5 linked regions of the Homo sapiens genome follow. The protein of the gene in region 1 interacts with the protein of each later gene in a pairwise test. Each region holds a gene or a part of one and is shown on either strand. Other genes may lie near its edges. The genes, in order: TBC1D4, NAV1, KATNIP, ZMIZ1 and NFAT5.

The links.
Region 2: the proteins of TBC1D4 (region 1) and NAV1 interact in a two-hybrid assay, tested with the Homo sapiens proteins (one large-scale study listed by IntAct).
Region 3: the proteins of TBC1D4 (region 1) and KATNIP interact in a two-hybrid assay, tested with the Homo sapiens proteins (one large-scale study listed by IntAct).
Region 4: the proteins of TBC1D4 (region 1) and ZMIZ1 interact in a two-hybrid assay, tested with the Homo sapiens proteins (one large-scale study listed by IntAct).
Region 5: the proteins of TBC1D4 (region 1) and NFAT5 interact in a two-hybrid assay, tested with the Homo sapiens proteins (one large-scale study listed by IntAct).

What each region holds. Positions count from the first base shown.
Region 1 is NC_000013.11:75,297,170-75,300,669, reverse strand, and holds part of TBC1D4 (TBC1 domain family member 4), read left to right. Parts: intron 1-1,095; coding exon 1,096-1,340; intron 1,341-3,500.
Region 2 is NC_000001.11:201,780,106-201,783,628, reverse strand, and holds part of NAV1 (neuron navigator 1), read right to left. Parts: intron 3,209-3,523; coding exon 3,070-3,208; intron 2,618-3,069; coding exon 2,320-2,617; intron 1,454-2,319; coding exon 760-1,453; intron 224-759; coding exon 1-223. UniProt on the Homo sapiens protein: May be involved in neuronal migration.
Region 3 is NC_000016.10:27,735,133-27,738,655, reverse strand, and holds part of KATNIP (katanin-interacting protein), read right to left. Parts: intron 3,162-3,523; exon of another isoform or gene 3,066-3,161; intron 1-3,065. UniProt on the Homo sapiens protein: May influence the stability of microtubules (MT), possibly through interaction with the MT-severing katanin complex.
Region 4 is NC_000010.11:79,295,949-79,299,471, forward strand, and holds part of ZMIZ1 (zinc finger MIZ domain-containing protein 1), read left to right. Parts: intron 1-522; coding exon 523-705; intron 706-1,664; coding exon 1,665-1,742; intron 1,743-2,457; coding exon 2,458-2,632; intron 2,633-3,101; coding exon 3,102-3,243; intron 3,244-3,523. UniProt on the Homo sapiens protein: Acts as a transcriptional coactivator. Increases ligand-dependent transcriptional activity of AR and promotes AR sumoylation. The stimulation of AR activity is dependent upon sumoylation.
Region 5 is NC_000016.10:69,691,454-69,694,976, reverse strand, and holds part of NFAT5 (nuclear factor of activated T-cells 5), read right to left. Parts: intron 3,229-3,523; coding exon 738-3,228; intron 1-737. UniProt on the Homo sapiens protein: Transcription factor involved, among others, in the transcriptional regulation of osmoprotective and inflammatory genes. Binds the DNA consensus sequence 5'-[ACT][AG]TGGAAA[CAT]A[TA][ATC][CA][ATG][GT][GAC][CG][CT]-3'.

The sequences.
Region 1 (3,500 bases):
AAATTTTAAGTGAGAAAGTAAAACCATAATTTTAAAAATTGCTTATTTGGCTCTGCTTGTAGCCATCTGTGTTTCTTCAGCATGCAATTGTTATTTTCTCATATCTTCCTCTTACTGGCTCTGCAGAATTAATCTTATTGGTTCCTAGAAAAAAAAATCACTTTTAAGCATATGTGGGAGAAAACATTTTAAAACCTGGCACTCTTGCAAGTTCTAAATGACATGAGTAATCATTTCACAAGGAAGCTAACATCCCCCTTCATTTTTGTGGCCCTAGAAAAATGCCCATACCAATATAGACAGCTTTGATGTGAAGACGGATTTGTTTCTGTGTATAGAACTCTCCTTTTAGTGATGCAGGACTCACATTGCCAGCTCAAGTGTCTCTGTGGTAATTTTATACCTAGAGGTATATTTTAGAGGGGAATTTATTTGAAATTGACTTGACCCTTTATTTTCCTTGATATTTTTAGATATTGAAAAAGAAAAGTGGTTTACATGGCTCATGGAGGTATTTTAAGAGCAGAGAGCGAACGATAGTTGAAAAAGCAGTTTTCTTCTGAATGACAGTCTGAATGTAAAGTCAAACAAACCCAAAAAGTCCCTCCAGTGTCATAAGAAAAGCAGAAATAAACCTGTTTATAGACTATGAAGATTTTCTTTTAAATAATATAATATGTCTTACAGACTTCTGGTTTCATTTAGAAGGTAGTCTTTATATGAATTAGAATTTGCCTTGCTTTATAGTCAGAATAAAATTTATATTCCATTTTCCTGGTATTTCTCCTGGGTACATCATTGGTTTGTGGATTTTTATTGTATTTTTTTTTTTTTTTTTTTTTTTTTGCTGGAAAGAAGTACTGGTTAGCATAAAATGTTTCCTCCCATATCGTATATGTGAAGATGGTATGGTGGCCTGGCAGAACTTGGGGTGAGAGAGGGAGAGACTCTTAGTTACATGGTGACTCTAAGCAACTCTCACTGGTTTGGGAAAGAGTGTCTGTTTATTCTTGGAGGTCACTGAATTGCAATTTCACTGTTGTCTCCAAGGCATGAGGACATTTCAAAAAATATTTTCCTTCTTTTCCTCTGCAGGAAGGACGTTTCCTACTCACCCTTACTTTTCAGTACAGCTTGGGCCAGGACAGCTGTCACTGTTTAACCTCCTGAAAGCCTATTCTTTGCTGGACAAAGAAGTGGGATACTGTCAGGGGATCAGCTTTGTGGCTGGAGTCCTGCTTCTGCACATGAGTGAAGAGCAAGCCTTTGAAATGCTGAAATTCCTCATGTATGACCTCGGCTTCCGCAAGCAGTACAGACCTGACATGATGTCGCTGCAGGTGAGGCACTTGTGCTTCCCGAGGAAGGTGTGAGACTATTACCAGAAATCCTGGCCCTCTTCTCAATTATTACAGTTCAGATTTAAAGAAATGTAGAGCCATTGTCTTAGAACTTGGGTAAAGATTGGGGCATGTTTTAGTTCACTTAGTGTGGGATTTGCTATTTAGGTAAACTTCTAAGTGTATGAGACCCAGAGGCAGAATACCTTTTCCATAAAATTCCTGAAGTAAGTAAATAAGTAATTTAAGAAAGGTAGGTGATGAGGACCCAGTCCTTTATGCCCTAAGTCTATGGGTTACATGGAGAAGGTATCAAATCATCTTTATTCACTTTTTCTCAACTTCTCAGTTGAAAAGGCTCACAGATCTTTTGTTTACAATCTGAAAGTATCTTTATCCCTTTACTTTTGAGTACACAAATAGCAGATACCATGTTATGGTTCTTTTTGAACTTATCATTGATATCTCCCCTCCTTTATCTTCATGTAAGATAGGCCTTTACAGAGGAAAAAGTGTGAAAGCCAGTGGTGCCTTTTCAGTCTGCTTTGTGTGTGTGTGTGTGTATGTGTGTGTGTGTGTGATGGAATCTTGCTTTGTTGCCCAGGCTGGAGTGCAGTGGCACGATCTCGGCTCACTGCAATCTCTGCCTCCCGGGTTCAAGCCATTCTGCTGCCTCAGCCTCCCCAGTAGCTGGGATTACAGGCAGGTGCCACCATGCCTGGCTAATTTTTTTGTATTTCTAGTAGAGATGGGGTTTCACCATGTTGGCCAGGCTGGTGTTGAACTCCTGACCTCAGGTGATCCGCCCGCCTCAGCCTCCCAGAATGCTGGGATTACAGGCTTGAGCCACTGAGTCTGCTTTTCTTAGCAGGCTCTGAAGAAGCACCATTAAGATTTTCCAGGTATTTTGAGTGGGGTATTAACTGCCACTGCTGTCTTTAGCCTACCTCAGACTCCCTGTTTGCACATTTCTCTCCTAGTTTTCACTTCTCTAAGTGGGTTGGTTGCTAATAAGCAGTTTAAATTTTGTCTATAGATACTTAAACAACCACTGCCTGGCAATTTAAAGCTTTCAGTGGTTAAAAATATAAAAGAAGACTTTAAAGAGGATTCTCAGGTTTTTCCTCCCTTGAAATGAGGTATGCATGACTCCCAGTTCATCATAATACTGTGCTTTAGATAAGAAGTAATAGTTTAAAGATGCTTTTAAAATATACTATTTTTTTCTGTTTCCCAGAGATGAGTTTTTTGCCTTTAATATCTCAGTTGCCAATGTATAACAAAAGAATTGTATTTTTAGTCTGAGCGTTATAGTAAATGATATTTTTTGAGAGTATGAATGGAGATGAAGTATTCCATTTTTCTTTACTTTCTGAAGGTAAAATTTTGACTGGGGAGATAGGGCTTTGCTATCAACATTAGGTTTTCTGGTGTGAGTTCATATGATTTGATTCCTCATTGATGACTATTCGTAGGTTTAACAAGTCAAATAACAACTGTGGAAAGTTTTATTTTTTATTCCTAAAGAGTTTACCTGTATCTTTTTATCTTTTTATCGTTTTTTTTTTTTTTGGAGACGGAGTCTTGCTCTGTCACCCAGGCAGGAGTGCAGTGGCGCGATCTTGGCTCACTGCAACCTCCACCTCCTGGGTTCAAGTGATTCTCCTGCCTCAGCCTCCCGAGTAGCTGGGATTACAGGCATGCACTACCATACCCTGCTAAATTTTTTGTATTTTTAGTAGAGTTGGGGTTTCACTGTGTTGGGCAGGCTGGTCTCAAACTTCCGGACCTCAGGTGATCCACCTGCCTTGACCTCCCAAAGTGCTGGGATTACAGGCGTGACCCACTGTGCCTGGTCACCTGTATCTTAATATCAGATAGGAATCAGATGGTCTTGTAAGGAATTCAATAATTCTGATTTTCAGAAACAACGGTTTGGTAGCTATTATTAGAATTTCAAAGATACAGGGAAGTACCTGTGAGTAGTGTTTGATCTGGGTCCACAGATAAAAGGATAATAGCTATCAGTTTAAAAATACAATGATATTTCAACTTAAAAATTATTCATCAATTTGACATTACAAAAATTCATGTAAATCGGATTTATACATTCATTTAATATGGACTGTAAGTACCAAGAAGTATTTTATGTCTATAATT
Region 2 (3,523 bases), on another chromosome or scaffold:
CAGGCCCTGGGAGAAGCTGGCTGAGTTAATATTGAGGATGGGTGCCGGACTGGGGGTGAAGCAGGAAGGGAGAGGGCCCCCAGATGCTGAGCTTGTAGCATGCAGATCTGGGACCTTTGAAGCATGGGTGGTATCACTGGATGATGGTAGATCCAGACTGTTGGAGTTGACCTTGTCAAGATTGGCTAGTGAGGGTGGTTTGACAAAGCTCTTCGCTGTGGCCCTGAGAGAAGATCAAACGAAATATTTAGAATAATAGAATTACAGAGTGAGAGGCAGATAGGACCTTAAAGAAATCCTATCCAGTCTTGTTTTCTGCCTATTTGCTAAGCACAGAGGCTTATCCTAATGCTGTTGTGAAATACAATGCAAGGAAATCTGATACCCAACTTGGGGCACATTCAGCTTAGATAAGGGGCCAGCATATGCACATGGGAGATACAAGTGAATTTATGCAAATAGGTATATATGTGTAAATAAACAGTAAAAACACCCATACAAGTGCTGAAGACAGGGTAAGCATTGATCAGAGAATAGTACAAATGAGGTAAGTTTTGAAAGAGGGATTCAGTCTTTCAGAACTGTCAGAAACTAGATTCTTTCAGAACCTTGGCATATGGGGGAGAGGTGGGAAAGAGCCATGCAAAGGCCTAGAGACAACGGTGGATAGGCCATGCCTCATCTAGTCCAAGGAGGGCAGAGATATGCGAAAGAATGACAAAGCAAACAGACAAGGAGGCGGCTGCCCACATTGGGTACCTGAGAGGGGTTGGTGGCAGCTCTGCCAGCTTGGTGGCTGTGGGGTGGCTTGCTTGGTTCTTGGGAGTACTTTCTGGGGAGCCAATACTCTTCAAGGAGATGTTGTCTGAGTCCAAGGCCACTGCCTTGGCTTTGGCCTTCTCCTTTTCCCGATCTGTCTGATTGACAGGGGCTGGAGTGGTCCGCCCACTGGCTACCTTGGTAGGCTCCTTCAGTCTGGAAGGCGTAAGGCCTCCCTGCTTGGTGCTGAGGAGACTGGGGTCAATGCTGCTGCTCACAGGGCGAGGTCCACCCCGCCCGCCGGTCACGCTCATAGAACTTGACTTGGCTGGCCGGGGCAGGCTGCGGTACTGGATGTTAGAACGGGCTCCAGGAGCCAGGAATCCTGGCTCTGCACTGTTGGAAACATCTAAGCTAGTCTTGCGCCCATTTACTGGCTTGACAGGGATGCCTGAGGACTTCTGGATCTTGCTGAGAGTGGCTGAACCACCAGTTTGCATGACAGTGGCTGTGCCTGTGGCAGGAGGAGGCTTCTTGTAGCCAAAGGATCCCGAAGTGGAGGGGCGAGCAATGCCCGAGGGGGGCTTCTTAGCATCACTCAGGCGGTCCCGACCAGCATCAGAGGAGGAGCGTTGGAGCCCAGTATTCTTCACTGCAAGCTTACCCTTGTCTGTAGCTTTGCCCTCAGGTTTGCCTGCAAGAGGACGGGAAATGAGAAAAGAGCTGAAACTGACCAGTATCTTAAAAACCCACCCTTTTCTTTCCCTCCATGGGAGAAGGGAACATTGTCCATGTATTGTAGACTTTTAGAGGCCTAAATTTGGGTAAACAGGTACAAGATAAGCTGATAAAGTTTCTTGTCTGAAAGACTCTGGCTGGGAGGGGTGGGGAGGCTAGGAATTTTTTTTGTTTTGCTCCCAGAGTAGAATGGTCCATTTTGATTAAAAAGGCAGAGGCAAACACAAAGATGATCAAGAATATCCATCTAACAACTAGTTGTGGAAGGGAAAAAAAAGGTGGGGAAGCAAATGGAATAGAGTATGACAATATCTCTTAGTAATTAGAGACTACAGGAAAATGTTGATTAAGGCTAAAAGTTACCCAAGGGGCCAACTTTGGGGGCACTATAATTCTCTTGCTGTAGCCATTTTATTTATTGTTTTCTTAGGATCTTCCTGAGATGTCAAGCTGTATCCTATGAAAATAAGTGCCTTGAGTGACTAACTTGGGAGAAAGAAGAAAGCAAGCATTGGAAGTGTTTGGAAGGAGGCCAAACTAGTCTCTAAACATAATATACTTCCTCCTGTACCTCATATTAACTGGGATTTTGGCCCAGCCACTTAATCTCTTTGAGTTTCTATTTCCTCCACATTTGTAAAATGGAAATAATAACACCCATCTTTCCTAACTCACGGGACTGTCCTTAGACCAGATAAGATAATGTCTGTTAAAGCACTATGCAAATGTTTGCTATCATCCTATGGGTTAATGACCACTAAGAAGAGGAGCAACCAAAGAACTAGGTCTTTGCCCTTGTACCTTCCTTTATTCCAGGCTCACCTGCGACTTTGAGGGCACTCTGGGCTGTGTGAGTGATGGGGGAAGTTACAGCCACAGGTGGGGTCTTGCCCTTCTTCAGGGAACCAGGGTGGCCCAGGCTGATGGGCTTTTTCAGTTCTCCACCCTTGGATGAATCATCACAGCTCTCAGGCCGCTCCCTCCGCCACTTAGAAGTCCCAGGTTCCATCTTCAGGCTACCACTGTCGTACTCCAGTTTTTTAGGGGCTTTCTCCTCTGATTCACTAAACCAGCTCAGCCCACTTTCTGCCAGTGAGCGCTTCTCTGAGTCTGTGCGTAGCTAAAGAAAAGAGAAAAAGGCAGAGTGAGATACTTCTATGCAGATGGGAGACTGGATAGCTGACAGGATTGATTTTAGTTAGTACCTGGCGCTGCTCATCTCAGAGTATTAAGTCAAACTGAGGGTTTCTACCTATACCCCTAGGGTTTCCAACAGCAGATGACATATATCTCGGGGTTTCTTTTTCTCCAGTTGGAATAGCTCTTACATGTATCACTCTAGATTGGTGTAGGCACTAAGTATACACAATATGACAACATCTAATGTCTTGGGTGAGTAGCCTTAGCTTTTTTTGGGAGGGGGTGGGGGCAACTCTAAAATGACCTGGCCAAAGGCCTATGAGAACCAATCCCATGGAGTGGGTGTGTACGTGCAACCCCATACACAGATAATGCCATTTGCCCTGTGGTTCATCTTGAGATGGCAGCTTGGGTGTTTGCAAACTCACGTACCACTATTGTTGAGTTCCTGCGAGAAGCAGTGGGAGTACTTGGGAGGGAGTTGAGTGAGGAGCTGGCATTGAATTCTTCTGAACTGAGATTGTCTGAGGCATCGCTGAGTCCACTACTGATGGAGCTGCTTTCATCCCAGCTACAGGACAGGAGAGATGAAGGTCAATCGTTAAAACAGAAGCCCAGGCAAAAAATAAATGTTTCACATTGATGCAAGAATGGCTCTGCACCAGTATATAGGCTAGCCAAAAGGAGAAAACCTGGGGGTTTGTCCTAGGTTTGTCAGCAACTCAAAGTGTGACTTAAACTTCCTTGTAATTTGGTGATGTTCTTTTACAAAAGGAAGAGACTCTGCCTTTATCTGGCAAGAGAAAACGTTGTATCTTCTTAACAGAAAGGTATTTTATAAAGGCAAGGTAATTTTTGGATCAATCTAATTATACAAACCAATTTA
Region 3 (3,523 bases), on another chromosome or scaffold:
TGGGATAAATTCCAAAGCTCTCCACATGACATACAGTAACCTTCACAAATGGTCCCCACCTCGCTCTCCTCTCTCACTGCCAGCCTAAATGCCCCTATGTCACGCAGGTTCAACTCTCTTCCTTCCATGCTTAAGATAAAATCACATCTCCTGCTACTGTTTCACTTGTGTCATCCTCTTTACAGCAAAACTCTTTTTCCAGCTTTATCGGGGAATAGAATACACACCCCATACAATAAACTGTGCATATTTAACGGGTACAGCTTGATCAGTTTTAACATGTGTCTACGCCAATGAAGCCATCACACTCAAGAGAACAAACGTACCTATCACCCTAAGGTTTCCTCGTGCCCCTTGGTAACCCCTGTCTCCCCTTCCTCCTTCCCTGGCTCCAGGCAACCACCCACTTATGGTCCCTCCCTATATACTGATCGTCCTTTCTGGAATGTTTACATAAAGGAATCATGTTGCATGTAGTCTTTTTTGCTCGGCTCTTTCAGTCACCATAACTGCTCTGAGATTCACCTGTGTTATGGGAACTGATAGTTCCTTTCCTTTCTACTGCTAAGGAATATTCCATTGCAGGGCCCCCCGCATGATCTGTCCGTCACCCCGTCAGTGAATCTCTGAGTGTCACTGTCCCCGTGGGCTCCTCCTCCCACTACCCCTTGTTCCTCCTCCCGTTGGGCTTCTGCCTCCACCTCCACATGGAACCCACCTGGCCCGGGCACCTGTAACTAGGGTGACGGGCCATCCTAGTTTGTCTGGGACAATTCTGATTTATATCTGTTATCCTGGTGTCATTACTAATGACTCTCAGAAGTGTCTGGTTCCTAAAGTAAATTACAGGGTCCAGCTGACTGCCATACGCAATAGGAATTTCTCCTAGGAGTGGGTGGGTGTGGCGGCTCGGCAGTACTCGGCAGCTTCCCCTCCTTTGCGATGACTTTCCTCCCTGGGGCTTGTGTGGCTCTGCACCCACCTGGCTTTCCTCCTGCCTCGCTGGCTGAGCCTGCCCGACTCCTGGGTTGCTTCCTTTTCTTCGGCTGCACTTTGAACGACTAGGCTGCCCAGGGCTCAGTCCTAGGCCTCCCGAGTGCTCTTCCCTTGCTCTCCAGGTGGTCTCATTCAGGTCCCAGGCTCCCAGTTATTTTCATCTCCAACCCTGACCTCTCCACCAAGCCCCAAGTGACTGCTTGGCCTCTCTTCCTGGATATCTAACAGGAATTCCAATATAAAATGCCCAAAACAGAATGCTCTCTTTTTTTTTTAAGAGACAAGGTCTTGCTCTGTTGCCCAGGCTGGCGTTACAGTGGCTCGATCAGGGTTCACTGCAACCTGAATTTCTGGGCTCAAGTGACCCTCCCATCTCAGCATCCTGGATAGCTGGGACTACAGGTACACGTCACCACGACCAGCTAATTAAAATAAATTTTTTTTTGTAGAGACGGGGTCTCACTATGTTGTCCAGGCTGGTCTTGAGCCCCTGGGCTCAAGGGATCCTCCTGCCTTGGCCTCCCAAAGTGCTGGGATTACAGGTGTGAGTCAATGTGCCTGGTGTGCCTGAAACAGAATTCTGAAATCACTTTCTCCACACTTAGTCTTAAACTATCTTAAAAATGGGTCCATCATTCGAGCGGTTGCTAAAAAGCTTGCCGTCCCCTCGTCCCCTCTCACTTTCTCACTCATATCCAGTATGTGGGCACGTCCCTCGGCTCTCTCTCCAGAACACGCCCTGGAGCTGACCTCCTTGCCCGCGTGTGCTGCTGCCTGGGCCACCAGGGTCTCCCCCAGAGACACCACCATCGCCTCCTAGTTGGTCTCTCTGCCTCCACTCTGGGCTGTCTCCCCCAAACCCTGCACTCACTTCATTTTCCACACAGCAGTGAGTCTTTTTTTAACAACTGAAATCAGATCATGGGAGCCTCCTGCTTAAAGCTGCCCAGTGACTTCCTATGGCACTGACAAGAAATCCTACTCCCCTTCAGGGGTGCCTGCTGACCTCTCTGACTCCGGCTCCTGGCGCTTGCCTCGATTCCTTGATGTGGCTCAGCCTGTTCCTCCTGCCTTAGAGCCTGTGCACTTGCCTGGCGTGTTCTGCCGCAGATGCCCACAGCCTTGCTCCTTCTTCTGTTCAGGACCTTCAGTGAACACACCTCTAGGGCAGCCCCACCTCATCGGTCCCCTCTTTATCTTATTGCCCTGTTTTATTTCCTTTTAGTCTCTGAATGGTCTTGCTTATCAGCTTTTAACTTATTTATTGTTTTTCCCACTCAAAGTTAGGCTCCAAGACAGCTGAAGCCCTGCCCGTCTTGTCCAAGGGCACATTGTAGCCACCCAACAATTATTTTTGGGCCAGGCGCAGTGGCTCATGCTTGTAATCCCAACACTTTGGTAGGCCGAGGTGGATGGATCACCTGAGGTCAGGAGTTCGAGACCAGTCTGGCCAACATGATGAAACCCCGTCTCTACTAAAAATACAAAAATTAGCCAGGCATGATGGCGTGAGCCTGTAATCCCAGCTACTCGGGAGGCTGAGGCAGGAGAATCACTTGAACCTGGGAGGGGGAGGTTGCAGTGAGCTGAGATCGTGCCATTGTACTCCAGCCTGGGTGACGACAGTGAAGCTCCGTCTCAAAATAAATAAATAAATTACTTTGGAATAGCAAATGAATAAACATGGGTTTTCTCTCCTGAACAGCACTGCTGTCTCAACAGTGCTCTAAGAATGAACCTGATCAGAAAAGCGGCGGCCTGTGGGTTTCACCTCCAGATCGTTTATTTCCCGTGTTGCCTTGGCTTCTGATCTGCTCTTGGGAGACAGAATCTGAGACCCTGGAGATGTTCACCTATACTAACCCCTTCTTAGCCTTCCTGAAAGCTAGGTGAGTAGGAGCTAACAAATTTCAGGATCACTGAGTTACAGAGGTTTCCGCAGCAATTTAGAAGGAGAACTGTCCGGCCTGCGTTACGCCACAGGAACTCGGCTTCAATCCTCCAATTGCAGATGGCAGGCTACCATTTGCCGACTGTCAGAAAAGTCGATTCTCAAAGCACTCTTTTACCTGCTTATATGGATGGATTCTCTGTTTAGCAGAGGCACAGAGCAAGTGCGTGCTGTGAATTCACCGGGGAACAGCTATTTGAGAAGGACAGCATGGGCAGTTTTCAATGACTGGTTCTGCAAAATTACTGCCACAGGGATATCTGGTGAGACAGAAACACCTTCCTTTAAAGAGGTAGTGGGTGATGGGGAAACCATCTAGTCCAGCACAGTCACAAGGTGGGCATCCTAGCTTTCCTAATAGGGTGGCCGGCTTCCACAACATGGCCACCCATCTTCCTTCCCCAGTCCAGAGCCCATCTGACCTCCAGCCCTGTTCCCACCAAGACGTCTGGCGGAGAGGGAACTGAGAGAGGGAAGCAGGCGGAGGCAGGGGTCAGGCTTGTAAGAGAGGAGTGGGCTCAGGTGGAAATCAGTGGTATGCAGGGGTCACAGGGAGGTGGGAGGGTCGTACCCTGC
Region 4 (3,523 bases), on another chromosome or scaffold:
CAGGTTGTCGATGGCCCAGAACTGAACACTAGGTGTGTGTTCTGCTCTGAGGGGAGTACGAGGACAATGCCACCCAAGTTCAGCCTTGGAATGCAGGGGCACAGGGGGCTCCTTTCTGGAATTGCATCCTGTTGACTGTGTTCCTCTGTCACATTGGGGTACACATTGGGGAGCACAGCCCTAACCCAGGCACCAGGAGAGACACAAAGGTCGGGGGAGTTAGAATCAGGCCCCTCATAATGGTGTGAGCAAGAGGCTCTGAAAGTGTCCCTGGAGTTCAGGGGCACATGTGCTCCAGGAAGAACGGCCTCAAGGGGAGGTGGCCTATGATCTGGACAGGCAGAACAAAATGCCCCTGGATGTCAGGACGAGAAGGGGCCCAAAGCATTATCTGGTTTTGTGGGTGGGAAACAGCAGGAGCAAATGAGGAGAGGCGGGCCCCATCCCGTTGTTCAGGTGACCTGGCTATGTGACGTTGGCAACATTGAACGTGTTTCCCCTCTCCTTTCTCTCCCACCACAGCCCAACTATGGAAACCAGCAATATGGACCAAACAGCCAGTTCCCCACCCAGCCAGGCCAGTACCCAGCCCCCAACCCCCCGAGGCCACTCACCTCCCCCAACTACCCAGGACAGAGGATGCCCAGCCAGCCGAGCTCCGGGCAGTACCCGCCCCCCACGGTCAACATGGGGCAGTATTACAAGGTGAGTCCCAGCCTCGCCACCACCCACGGGGCCCCTTCCCTCCTAACCACCTCACTCCCCTAACTCCACCGGGATCACTCTGACCCTGCGTGTGTTTGCCCCAAGGACAGCGAGGGGTGGGTGATTTCTGAACGTCCCCATGTGTTCAGGGCGAAGTTCGGTGGCCAGAATGTCAGAGTGGCTTTTCTCAGTTCCTATTCTCATTCGTCTCGGATGATGGTTTTTTTTTCTCCTTTTCTTATTCACGGCACTCACAAAATAATAAAGGAAATATATTTTATTAAAAAAACACACATCCCCTGTATATATTAACATTTCATTCTAAACTTTGTATGTGCAGGTGGGCACTAACATGTTATAAAATTGTTATTACAGCTGTAACTTTGAATCTGTACCTTTTACTTAACATGACATAATAAGGATGATACTTACTGCTACTAGAGCCCCTGGGGTTTTTACTTTTAATGGCTGCCTAATATTCTGCTGAGATCACCATATCATATTTTATTATTCCTTCTGTTAGGTATTTGGGTTGCTTCTGATTTTTCACTTTAGAAATAACACTATGATGAGTATCTTCAGGCATATAGCCTTTCCTTTCCTTAGGATTATTTTCTTGGGAGTAAAGAAGACACTTTATTATTTTACATTTATTTGCCAAAAATCATGCTAATTTATTATGGCCATCTACCAAACAGGTTTACCGTTTTTGCTCCAACTTCAGCATACTAGGTGTTGCTATTTTTGTAACTTCTGCTAAATTAATAGCTAGGGACAGAGAGAGGCAAAATGCCGTCCCTGAGGTGTAGCTGTCCCGCCCTGCTCACTCAATATACCCAGCAGTGGATGGGCCCCTGTAGCATCCCCGTGCTCCTGGTAGATTTTACTGTCCAGAGGGAGAGCGGGCTTCTGATGGCTTTTCTGCCCCCCACTCAGTGTTGTTTATCTTGTTTTAATAGCCAGAACAGTTTAATGGACAAAATAACACGTTCTCGGGAAGCAGCTACAGTAACTACAGCCAAGGGAATGTCAACAGGGTATGTTCCAATTTAATTTACAAATTCTAAGCCACAGGGAGTTGTTGCCTCTAAAGGTTCTCACTGTTCCTGCTCCAGCCTCTCTGGACATTCAAAGGGGCCCATGGGTGGGGGTGCACTCCCTGGTCCCCTGTCCTGGGGACAGAGATGCTCAGGACTGAGAATCCACGGCTCCAGGTGGGGTGAGCCCCAGGGTAAAGTGTCAGCCTGGCTAGTCTTGAAAACAAGGAGAGGGAGAGGGGTTCCTGGGGAACCTGGGCCCCAGATTCTGCAGGCCCCGACTCCACCTGGGGACCCTGATGGGGTAGGCATAGAGGGTGTGGCCTTGAGTCGTGATGTGGGAAGCCCACCTGCTCGGGTGACAGGAGGCCTGGGCTTCATTCCCGCTGTCCTGTCCTCCAAGGGTTGTGCTGAGCAAGTCCCCAACCCTGAGCCTCTGTGTCCCCATTTATCACAGGGATGGGTAAGGGTCTCCACAGGCACCTGACACAGGAGCTCAGTGGTGAGACCCAGATGAAGGGTGGGGAGGCCCTTCCCAGGGCTGTCTTCTGAGCAGGACAGAGATCTGCGAGAGAGAAGAGTTTCCCTGGAGGAGGCTCTCCTCCCGAGGGGCATGGCTCCAGGCCCCTGGGATGAGTGCGGTGTATGTCCATAGCCATGGCCCCTTCTGTCTCCGTAATCCCATAACTCGTGCGTGTCTTTTCTTTCCCTCCAGCCTCCCAGGCCGGTTCCTGTGGCAAATTACCCCCACTCACCTGTTCCAGGGAACCCCACACCCCCCATGACCCCTGGGAGCAGCATCCCTCCATACCTGTCCCCCAGCCAAGACGTCAAACCACCCTTCCCGCCTGACATCAAGCCAAATATGAGCGCTCTGCCACCACCCCCAGGTGAGGGCCCTCCCTCCCTCTCTTGGCAGCTCCACCTGGGCCCCCCAGTGGGCCGGGAGCAGGGGCTTCGCAGTCAGGCTGCCTGGGGAGTGGGCATCAGAAGGGGCAGAGAGTTGAGAGCAGGTGAGATACCCAGGGGCACACTCAAGGCGGGGTAGGCAGCTCACAGACAGCCTTTCTTACTGCTGCCTGGGCGCCTGGAGGCTGGGAGGAAAATCTATACGCAGCCATGGAAGGATGCAAGGAGGCGGGTGGAAGAAGAGGGGATGAGTCGCTGGGGCGGGGCCGTGTAGAATCGAAGAAGCCATGACTCACTGGTGTGCCCTTGGACTGGCTATGTCTCTGGCCCTGTTTACACACCCCTGCCTTCCTCTGAGCATGCAGCCCAGGGTGAGCAAGTCCCACCTACAGCCCCAGAACCCATGGCAGCTGAGGCTTGTGGCTCACCCACCTCCTCTCCTCGCCCCAGCCAACCACAATGACGAGCTGCGGCTCACATTCCCTGTGCGGGATGGCGTGGTGCTGGAGCCCTTCCGCCTGGAGCACAACCTGGCGGTCAGCAACCATGTGTTCCACCTGCGGCCCACGGTCCACCAGACGCTGATGTGGAGGTGCGTGTCAGGGCAGGGGCGCCAGCCCAGGCGGGATGAAGGAGGTCCCCTGGGATGGCTTCCTTGGGCCCGAGTGGGGCCCTGGGCAGGGGGTAGCAGCATCTTCTGACACCTTCACGTGTTCAGCATCATTGACTGGGCCCTGTCCTGCGGTTGTCATGGGAAGTCTGCAGGTGCACAGGTAGATGAGCAGTCAAGGTGTCGTGGCCCAAGGGCAGGGAGCAGCTGTCACTCACCCCAGAGGAAAAGGTGGCTGGCTCAGACCTAGGCTGGGAAGCTG
Region 5 (3,523 bases), on another chromosome or scaffold:
GCACCTGATAGTCCAAGAAAAAGGTTTTCACAGACTGGCACTGGAATTCATCTTAGGTTTCCTTTAAGCAGTCTAAAAATACAACTTTGCTTAAATATCAAAAGTCCTATATAAATTCCTTGGTATATAAACATTAAAGATGAGTTTCTACCTCCTTAGAAACTACTTACTTCAACTGGGTAAGGTATTATCTGTCATTCTGACTTCATTTTCCTTTTAAGTTTATAGCTTAAAATGGCAAACACACATTTTTATACATTGCCATATTTAATCCTCCCCAAATCCATGTAAAGTATGTAATATTATCACCATTTTAAATGAGAGAATTGAGACCCATAAAAGCCAAATAACTTGTACAAGATCTTATAGTCTATAGGTGATAGAGTTCTAACTACAATCTGTACTCTTAAAACAACTATACAGGACAGGTGTGGTGGCTCACGCCTGTAATCCCAGCACTTTGGGAGGCCGAGGCCAGCGGATCACTTGAGGTCAAAAATTCAACACCAGCCTGGCCAACATGGTGAAACCCCGCCTCTAACAAAAATACAAAAATTAGCTGGGCGTGGTTGTGCACACCTGTAATCCCAGCTGCTTGGGAGGCTGAGGCAGGAGAATCACCTGAACCTGGGAGGCAGAGGGTGCAGGTGCAGTGAGCTGAGATCGCACCACTGCACTCTGCTTCCTTCTAATAATAATAATGACCAATTAAGTAATGAAAAATTAGAGTTTCTTACTATTTTGAATGCCAAATAAGAACATTCCTGATGTCTGCTGAGATGAGCCAGGAGAATTCTGCAGTTGGTTCATTGTGCCTCCTGCTGTGTTGTGAAATAAAGTAGCCTGTGGTTGAGGCGAAGATGTGGCTCCTTGAATTCCAGGCATGTTGTTCTGAGGGGAATAAAGAGGAGACTGTTGCATATCTTGTTGATTTATACTGGTCTGCAAGGCAGACATGGATGCTGGAGATAAGAAGAGAGTTACTTGCTGCTCTTGAGAACTAGGTGACCCTTGTACCAACTGAATCTGAGGAGAGCTATGGAACAAGGGGGTCTGTGATGATTCCGACTGGGTAGGACCTGGGTTCTGAAGTGAGGAAACTGTGGACTGACTCTGAAATTGCATGGGCTGTTGCTCTTGATTCATTGGGGCCATGTTACTTTGTTGGTGAAAAATTGACTGGTTCTGTTGCTCCTGATTAGCCATTGGATTTTGATTTGGGTTGAATATCATGTTTGGTGGTGGTTGCTTTGGAGACGCCATTGTAGCCATGGTATTCTGATTACTGAATAAAATGCTCTGTTGTTGTTGCTGCTGCTGTTGCTGCTGCTGTTGCTGCTGCTGCTGCTGTTCCTGGGATGGAGAGTTACTCTGCATGGCAACTATTGAGTGCTGTGACTGGAACATGGTTCCTTGTTGGCTTTGAGGCATTGGATTAGGTGGAAGGGAGCCCAGGGCCACCTGAGGCTGAAATAAACCCTGCTGCGGGGGTTGTGCCTGTTCTTGGGAAAGCATAGGAGTCTGGATGTGTGATATTGGAGCTTGCTGTTGGAAAGCAGCTTGTTGTTCACTGTTTGATGTTGACTGAAGTGGAGAAATTGAGTTCGGTGCTGCAAAAAATGCTTCTTGGGCTACTGTGTTAGTCTGAAGATTATTCATGGGACTCTGGGAAAGAAATATGTTGGTTGACTGCTGGTCTTGAGGAACTGAAGAGCCCTGTAACACAGCAATGGTACTTTGAGAGTGAAACATTGGAGGCTGCATTTGTTCAGAGGAGGTTGTAGAAGTCTGACTGTGGACAATAGGATTTGGACTATGAAAGAGAGAACCTTGAGTTTCCTGGGAAAGGTTCTGAGCATCGGCAATAGGATTTTGAGGATGAAAAAGTTGGGCCTGTGAATGAGAAGACTGCTGCAAAAAATTTCCAGATTGAAGTGACATCATCTCATTCCCTTGCTGGAATAAACCATTACCTTGTTGTTGGGTACCACTATTCTGAACACTCATCATACTTTTTGTGGATGAAAAAAGGTTAACTTGAGGTTGATTGTCCCCACTATGTTGCATTTGGACCATGGTCTGAAAGACACTGTTCTGAATCTGTTTTGCTTGTGTTCCAGTTTCTTCTCCATCTCCTGAACTTGATGTCTGAAACATGGTAGTGCCAGGGGTTGCAACCTGCTGTGTGGTAGTTGTAGAAGTTTCATTTCCAGAAACTGCAGGAGGAGAAGAAAACAATTCACACTGCATTTGCATATCCTCATTGGTAGACAATGCACTCATCATGTGAGAAGTCTGCTGGTAAACTGGCGATTGCTGAAGGTTTCCATTTGCTGAAGCAGTTGAAGGGAATAACTCTGACTGAATCTGGGCAGCTGCCTGGCAGATACTCTGTTGCATCTCCATCACCATTGCGGCTGAAGATTCCATCACTTGCTGTTGCTGCTGCTGCTGCTGCTGTTGATTAGATAACGTGTTTTCAGACTGTGGATGAACACTTTCAGCTCTTCCAGGTAATAAATTATCTGGTCTGGTATGGACTGTTGGCTCTGTTGAGGAAAACATTCCAGGGCTTACACCACTCTGAATTTGACTGACTTGTTGAAAAATATCTGCACTAAGCTGCTCTTGAACATTCTCATTACCATCTGGAGCAGAAAATAAAACTGAAGATAACTGCTGCTGTGCCTCTAAAACTTGTTGGACCAAGTCAACACTTCCACTGCTGCCACTAGCAGTACTGCCTGTGAAACTCCCTGCTTGCAGCTGCTGAATAGTATTCTGAAGCTGACTCACACTATTTGGTGATGGAAAAATATTTGATGAAATCTGCTGCTGTAAAGTCTGTGCTTGTTCTTGTAGTGGTGACTGCTGCTGTTGTTGTGATGCCTCAGTCAGTTGTGACAAATTAACCACTGTACCATCTGACTGTAATATCTCTCTAGACTGAGTTTCTCTTGTCTGAAACTGTGTAGCCTGCTGCAATAGTGCATCGCTGTTGGGCAGCTGACTAGAAGCAGAAACTGCTGGAAAAGTACCAGGCTGTGAGATGTCCTGGGTTTGAATAGTTGTCAGGGTCTCTGGGTTGTATGCCTTGGGCTGAATCTGCTGCTGTTTTTCATTTTCAGAAGGTAGGTGGGAAGATGATGGTGATGAAAAAGAGCCATTTCCTGCTATGTTTGAGATGTTTTCTAATGTTTGCTGAGTTGATCCAACAGACTTTGTAGTCTAAAAAATAAAAATCCCCAAATATTATGAATATATAAACATTAAACAAGTTTGTAACATACATCAAAAATCACTATTGCTCTAAAAATATATGCAGGACCAGCTTTCCACTCTATATTATTATCATTTAGAAAACAGGTACAGGACTACAATTCTCCATAACATGATGTCTCATTTTCCTTGAGATATATTTTTTAAAAGTACGACAAGCAAAGATAGTCAAACAAGGAAGTAGAATAATCGGCTATTGATATGCTTAGGTGAATTAAGGGTAATCAGAACACAGTAATTTTAT